2 linked regions of the Homo sapiens genome follow. The protein of the gene in region 1 purifies or fractionates together with the protein of each later gene. This does not show direct contact. Each region holds a gene or a part of one and is shown on either strand. Other genes may lie near its edges. The genes, in order: DLL3 and CGRRF1.

The links.
Region 2: the proteins of DLL3 (region 1) and CGRRF1 purify together in Homo sapiens (affinity purification with mass spectrometry; one large-scale study listed by BioGRID and IntAct). This does not show direct contact.

The regions. Positions count from the first base shown.
Region 1 is NC_000019.10:39,501,780-39,505,596, reverse strand, and holds part of DLL3 (delta-like protein 3 isoform 2 precursor), read right to left. Parts: intron 2,783-3,817; coding exon 2,540-2,782; intron 1,527-2,539; coding exon 1,309-1,526; intron 369-1,308; coding exon 146-368; intron 1-145. UniProt on the Homo sapiens protein: Inhibits primary neurogenesis. May be required to divert neurons along a specific differentiation pathway. Plays a role in the formation of somite boundaries during segmentation of the paraxial mesoderm.
Region 2 is NC_000014.9:54,530,226-54,534,042, reverse strand, and holds part of CGRRF1 (cell growth regulator with RING finger domain protein 1), read right to left. Parts: coding exon 3,817-3,817; intron 3,141-3,816; coding exon 2,993-3,140; intron 1-2,992. UniProt on the Homo sapiens protein: Able to inhibit growth in several cell lines.

The sequences.
Region 1 (3,817 bases):
TGCCCATTTTACAGGCTTGCAGGTGGAAGGTCAGGTCCCCAGGCCCTAGGGTTAGAAGAGTCAAAGCCAGGATTCCAACCCTGGACTGTCTGAGCCATCCAGGACCCCCACCCCATCCCTCGCCGTTCAGGCCTCCAGGCCTCACCATTGCGGCATGGCTGCAGGCTGCACCGGTCCACCCTCTTCTCACAGTTGGAGCCTTGGAAACCGGGTGGGCAGTGGCAGATGTAGGCAGAGTCAGGGTCTGCACCCCCGACACACAAGCCGCCGTTGAAGCAGGGTCCATCTGCACATGTCACCCCGCTCACCTCACACCGCAGCCCGTAGAACCCACGCGGGCAGGTGCATTCAAAGGACCTGGGTGTCTCCTGGGCAGGGACAAGAGTACTTGAGAAGGGTGTTTCCTTGGAGAAAAATCCCATCCCCCTCCTCAGTCCTAACCACTGGGGGCTGCTCCTTGTCCAGTCTCAAGTCCCACTATGCAGGGGCCACCCTGGGAGGTCCTCCCGACATCCCCTCGATCCACTCCACATTCTTCTGTCTGCCCATGTGACCCCAGAGGGAGGAGGCTCTGGGGACCCAGAGTGACCCCATTCCCACCCCTACATCTTTGCCTACCAAATGCTGCCTGCCTGGTCTGCCCTGCTCGCTTCTGTCTACACTGACGAGTCCTACTGGGAGGTCCTAGATCTCAGCCCACCTCCTCCAGGAAGGCTTCTCTGGATCTCTCCTTCCCAGGGCCTCTCCCTAAGTATTTGAACCCTGAGTGTGGCAGTATCCAGGTGGCCCACACTGGACCCTACTCTATCCCAGCACTCCATGCCAGGCTCACTCACTGCCACCTCTGCACCCTTGCTCCCTGCAGGCCACTCACCTGGCCACCCTCTCTAATCACGTCCCAGAAGCCCCAGCCCCGGGCCACCTCCAGGAAGCCTTCTCTGATGTCTCCACCCCCTGTGCCCGCAGATCCCAAATCTCCAACCTATTTGGCCCCACCACCCACTACCTTGGGCCCTGAATCGTTCTCAGTCCCGCAGTAGGGGCAGCTGTGGCCCCACACGGCTCCTCATCATTTCCACTCCTGCATCTTTCGGGGCCACCCACTGAGCCTGCTCTCCCCAGTCCCATCCCCATCACCTAATCCTACTTCAAGGCCCCAGATGCCGGCTGGATGCCTCCAGGAAGACCTCCCTGATAGTTATTCCCAGATCTCCTCCCCAGGCTGGTGTCTCATGGAGCCCCAGGGAGAGGGCTGTGGCTCCCAGGGTAAAGTACTAAGCAGGACAAGGTGGGAAGGGTGACACTGACACTACAGCTGCCTCCATTGGCACACGGGTTCCCGTCACAGGGCCCAGGCCCAGGGACAAGGCATCCGGTGGTAGCAGAGGACGGGCCCCTGGGGCTGAGGCAGCTGCTGGTGGAGACAGGGACCGTGCAGAGGGGTCCAGTCCAGCCCTCTAGGCATCGGCATTCACCGGGCTGTTCACAGAAGCCATGCTCAGGGCTGCAGCCTGCTCGGCACACCACTATGGGGGACAGAGAGGCAGAGAGAAAGGGAACACCAACGTCGGGGAGGGCCAGGGACAAGATGGAAAGCAGGGAGGTTTCTGAGCACGTTCCCTGAGCCACCTTGCTTCATCTTTGTGACAGATAATCATCGGGACTAGATGGTACTGTGACCGCCCCCCCAGTTTACAGATAGGGAAACTGAGGCCCACAGAGACGAGGTGACCAGCCCACCTAGGAAGTGGAGGAGTGATGATGTGAACCCAGGCCATCGGGCTGGAGTCTGTGCTCTTGGAAAGAGGATGGGACAGGGGCACCCAGGTGAGATCGTGAGGATAGGAGACAGTGAGGGGATTTGGGATTGGTGGGGGGACCCCTGGCCTTTCAGGGAAGATGGGAGTGTATTGAATTAGGGTGGCTCTGAGAAGATCTGGATTAGCCTGGGAGTCCTAGGGGCCTTGGTGGGGCTCTGAAATTTGGGGAGAAGTCTGAAGAATTCCAAGCTTTAAGAAGCCATGGGTTCTGGCCTGCAACCCTAGGGAGGGAGGATGGAGGGCCCCTTGGCCAGAGTGGACTGGGAGGAGATTCCAAAGCTTCCGAGTGGGAGTCGGGAGGGCCGCAGAATTAGAAGAGCTTTGGAGTCCTAGCATCAGGACAGGGTGTGAATGTGGGTTAGGGAAGGAACTGGAGGGTGCCAGCATAGAAAATGGACGTGGGCTTCCGATTTGGGGCAACAAGAGGGCTGGGAGAGGGAAGGGGGCTCGAGTAGCAAGGCAGGGCTGGAGAGAGGTCCAGGGTCCTCAGTTTCTCCGAAGGTGGCAGCTGGATGGTGGGCGGGGTTTGGGATACATCCGCAGCAGTCAGCGCGTTCCCCAGCTCCCTGAAGAGGGGTGCCTGGGGTACATGGTGGGGGACTCTAGAGTACCCTGAAGAGGGTGAGTGGGTTGTGAGAGGGGACTGGGGGCCGCGAGTGACGCTCAGGAGGGGCCGGGGTCCCCGGCTGGGACGGGGTGGGGTCGAACGCAGGACTCACGCGGCGCCTCACATTCGTCCTCGAGCGGTGCGCAGGGGCGCAGTCCCGGACCGCACCGCGAGGGGGCGCTGCGCGGACGGCAGAGGCGCGTGCACGCGGTCCCGACGGCAGGCGGCTCGCAGCGCGCGCGGTACGAGAAGCGCAGCTCCCAGGCGCCTGCGCGCTGAATGTCCCGGGCCCACGGGCCTCCGGCTGCCAAGCGCCGCCTGCCAGCCACGCGCGCCAGCAGGCTCCAGGCGGGCCCTGCGAGGACAGGCAAAGGAGGGGTGCTGGGGTGGGCCCGGCCGAACATGGATGCATACGGAGCGCCCCGGCCGCATTCTCCCCGCCCCTCCCAGCGAGGCCAAAACACCCTCATGGAGCCCTGGGGTCCTTGGACCTCGCGAGTAGAATGGCAGTCACCCTCTACTTTAGCAAGGCTGCGAACTCCCCAATGCACCCTGGGACCTGCAATGTCGTGGTCCTTTCTAGTACTCTAGGTAACATTTCTCTCAGCCAAGCATGGTGGCTCAAGCCTGAAATCCCAGCACTTTGGGAGGCCGAGACGGGTGGACCACCTGAGGTCAAGACCAGCCTGATCAACATGGTGAAACCGTCTCTACTAAAAATAAAAAATTCTTTAAAAAAATTAGCCAGGCGTGGTGGCACGCACCTGTAATCCCATCTACTCGGGAGGCTGAGGCAGGAGAATCACTTGCACCCAGAAGTGGAGGTTGCAGTGAGCCGAGATCGGCCATCGCACTCCAGCCTGGGTGACAGAGCAAGACTCCCTCTCAAAAAAATAAAAATAAAAAATAAACAGTTATCTCATAGAAACCGTAATACTCCTGTATTTTGACCCAGATATTTGTTTTTTTTTTGTTTGTTTTTTGCGACGGAGTCTCACTCTGTCGCCCAGGCTGGAGCGTAGTGGTGTGATCTCGGCTCACTGCCAGCTCCGCCTCCCGGGTTCACGCCATTCTCCTGCCTCAGCCTCCCGAGTAGCTGGGACTACAGGCGCCTGCCACCACGCCCGGCTAATTTTTTTTGTATTTTTAGTAGAGACAGGGTTTCACCATGTTAGCCAGGATGGTCTCAATCTCCTGACCTCCTGATCCGCCCGCCTCGGCCTCCCAAAGTGCTGGGATTACAGGCGTGAGCCACCGCGCCGGGCCTTGACCCAGATCTTTGTAAATTGAAGTAATGATGAGACCTCTAACACCCTGTGACATTTGGTACCTCCATATGGCCAAAGAACAATAACATGTCTGAAGTGAGGTCATAACACCCCTAAATTGT
Region 2 (3,817 bases), on another chromosome or scaffold:
GATATGGAAAAAATGTTTGAATATACTACTAAGTGAAAGCAGGTCACAAAATAGTATAAAATGTATAATTTTATCCCTTTTTTAATTACATATATAAAGATTTGGAAAGATACAGACAAATATTCACAGTGATTATTTTTGGATGATAGAATACAGATTATTATACTTCTCTCCTTTTGGCTTATCTACACTTTCTAATTTTTTTTCCTGCCACAAATGTATTATTTGAATAATACTGAAAAAAAGCCAATGTAATTAACTAAAAATGAAAAAATTTTAAAGTCAAAATTTTGTAGTAACAATTCCTGCTTTCCTTTTTTTAATCTAAAACAACAAAGTGGTTCCTAACTGTACTACCTAAATATAATTCTTTGCTGTTAAAATAAAAATGATTTTATTAATAAATTTTTTAAAAAAATATAGTCCCTGACACGCACATACAATACTGAAAAAACACATATGAAAAAGAAATAGGAAATGGTCCATTTGCTTTTAAAATTATAAACAGAGAACATTAATACAAAATACACTAATAAATATATTTGAGTGCCAATATTACCCCCAATCTAAGAAATAAGACGAGAAGCAAGGATTAACAGGAAAAAAGGAGGGAGCCCACAGATGAGAATAAAAGACATTCAAAAGGACCCAGACACAGAGACATACACAAAGCACAAGAGAAGATGGCTGTTAACCCTTGGGAGACACTCAGGCTTCCCTATGGGAACAAGCCTCCCACAACTACAGCTGGGCCACACAGTCTTCATCCAGTGTGATCAGGGACCTGAGAGCAAACTCTTCTCTGGCCTAAAAGGCCACTGAACTGAAAACACACACACAAAAATGGTTAAAATGGTAAACTTTATATATAAAATATATATATTTTACCACACAGATACACAATCACTCCCTGTTTGGACAGGGGAAGAAAGTTAGAAAAAAAAAAAGACCCTGAGCACCTAGAGAGCACTATCAGTGAAGGGAAAAGGAATGCAATGGGGAAGCTGGGAGGGAAAATGACTGCGATCTGATCCTTTTGTGCTGAACCAAAGGAAAAAGGAGAACAGAACCCAAGAAACTCAGCAGAGATGGGGCACACAGTGGGGGCAGAAGGGCTTCCTTGCCCAAGTACACAGGGTCAAGAACAAAGAAGCTAGAAATAGGAGACACCAATTTAACAGGTTTTATTTATCTCTAACTGAAACTGAGAGAAAGGAGGGAGGAAGCCAGAAGGCCTCTCATGCACGCTAAGGTGCATGGGATGTACAGCTAAGGTGTTTCGCTGTCAAGCTCTATGAGGCTCATTAACATTGTCTAGTATGACTTTTTTTTTTTTTTTTTACTTATCAAATCTTTATTGAACCCCTATTATATCCTAGGCACTGTACTAGGTTCTGGAAATACACTACTGCTGGTATGACTTTTGTATTTTGTATTTTTATTGTATATATTTAAGGTGTACAACAGGATGTTTTGATATATATATACCTAGTGAAATGGTTACTATTATAATGCAAATTACGCATCATCTTACACAGTTACTTCCACTTTTTTTGCATGTGGCAAGAGCACCAAAAATCCCAAAAGCAATACCACATTAACTATAGTCTTTATGCTGTACATTAGATCTCTAGACCTGTTCATTTTATGTATCTGTAACTTTGTCTCTAGTGACCTACATATCCCCATTTCCTTCCCCTCTGCTCCCCATGACTTGGAAAAAATAAGCTGACCTCAGCTCAATGGAACTTCAGTTTGAAAATATTAAAAACCAAAAACCTAGGTGCTTAACTGCAAATGAGTAAGAAGGGTCTAGATTTCCCAAAGAGTCTTTACCTTCCAAAGCTCAATGTACACTTGTTGCAGGAAGATATTCCTGCTAAAAAAAATAAACTCAAAAAACAAAAACAAACAAACACACACAAAAAGCTCAGAGTCAAGCTCTTGTTCCATCTCTTACTGCCTGAATGACTGGGATTTTTCTTGACTCTGTTTCAGTCTGTGAAAGGAGAATATTTGCCCTGTCCTAAGAAACCAGGTTGTTAGAAGAAAAAAATAAGTTCATGTTTGTGAACGTACTTTGCATATTACGAATATCACAAAACAATGTTACCATATGTTTATTAATGAATAATCTATATTAAATACTTCAGAAAAGTAGTCAATTGTGTGTAAGGACATTTTTACCATGATACAATTTCATCAAAAGTTTATTTCATGTCTAAGTTTCTATTATACTCAGATGATTGTCAAAGTTTCAGTCCTCTTAGATCTCTAAGATACTTTTAACTTCCTAATAGGAATCAACTATCAGACTGAAAAAATAATTAGCACATAATGAGGAAAGGAGATTATTATAATTACTGAAAATACAGGGACCAGACATATAAGATATAGGTGCAGCAGGGACTTTGATGGAAACAAGGTGACTGCAAGCAGGCAAAAAAAGAGTGGATACTATCTTAAAATTGAGCACTTTCGATCATTATTGTGCTTATTTATTCACTGCTAAACATGTTCAGAATAAACATGCTTCCCAACAGACTGTTTCTATACAGCAAATATGACAGAATACAGAATGATGAAATTAACTTAATTCAACCATTATATATCTTTTATTTCCCAAATAAAGTCATATTACTGTGATCCATAAGGCAAAAAATGAGTCATACTCTGAAGGTACTGTTACACATATAAAAACTAAATAGGTGTATACAACCAAATAGGTGTTAATGATGAAACTAACTTAATTCAACCATTATATATCTTTTATTTTCCAAATAAAGTCATATTACTGTGACCCATAAGGCAAGAAATGAGTCATAATCTGAAGGTACTGTTTCACATATAAAAACCAAATAGGTATATAGTTGTTGTAGGCCAAATGCACATCCTCAGAAATTAAAATAAAACTTTTTCTATTTATCAAATAATGAAGAACCACCATTCAAATCACTTAAAGGTAATGCTTTCAAAATTTTCAATTACTTACAATATCATAAATTTCCCGGTCATCCTCATCAGCTAAGGTCAATAGCGCTACCAATGGATAGCGAGATCTGGGTACTGTACCAAAGTCTTCAATTTTAGTATCTCTTGGTAACTGGCAATATATTTCTTCTTTGCTATCCTTTTTAATACTTTTTGAAAATGTAAAGGTAAATTGCCACTATAACCATAAGAACAAAAATACACCAAAAATGATCAATAAGTTAGCAACACTTTATCCATAAGAAGTCTAATTTTCAGTGCTAATGGGTATATCAGATAAAAGGATACAAATACTGTTCCTGATAGAGACATTCACTCCACAGAGCATCTTCTAATGCTTGAGGAGTGCTTATTCTGAAGCAATAAACATGCTTCTAGTATACCAAAAATGATCAATAAGTTAGCAACACTTTATCCGTAAGAAGTCTAATTTTCAGTGCTAATGGGTATATCAGATGAAAGGATACAAATACTGTTCCTGATAGAGATATTCACTCCACAGAGCATCTTCTAATGCTTGGGGAGTGCTTATTCTGAAGCAATAAACATGCTTCTAGTATACCAAAAATGATCAATAAGTTAGCAACACTTTATCCATAAGAAGTCTAATTTTCAGTGCTAATGGGTATATCAGATGAAAGGATACAAATACTGTTCCTGATAGAGATATTCACTCCACAGAGCATCTTCTAATGCTTGAGGAGTGCTTATTCTGAAGCAATAAACATGCTTCTAGTATACCAAGAATGATCAATAAGTTAGCAACACTTTATCCATAAGAAGTCTAATTTTCAGTGCTAATGGGTATATCAGACGAAAGGATACA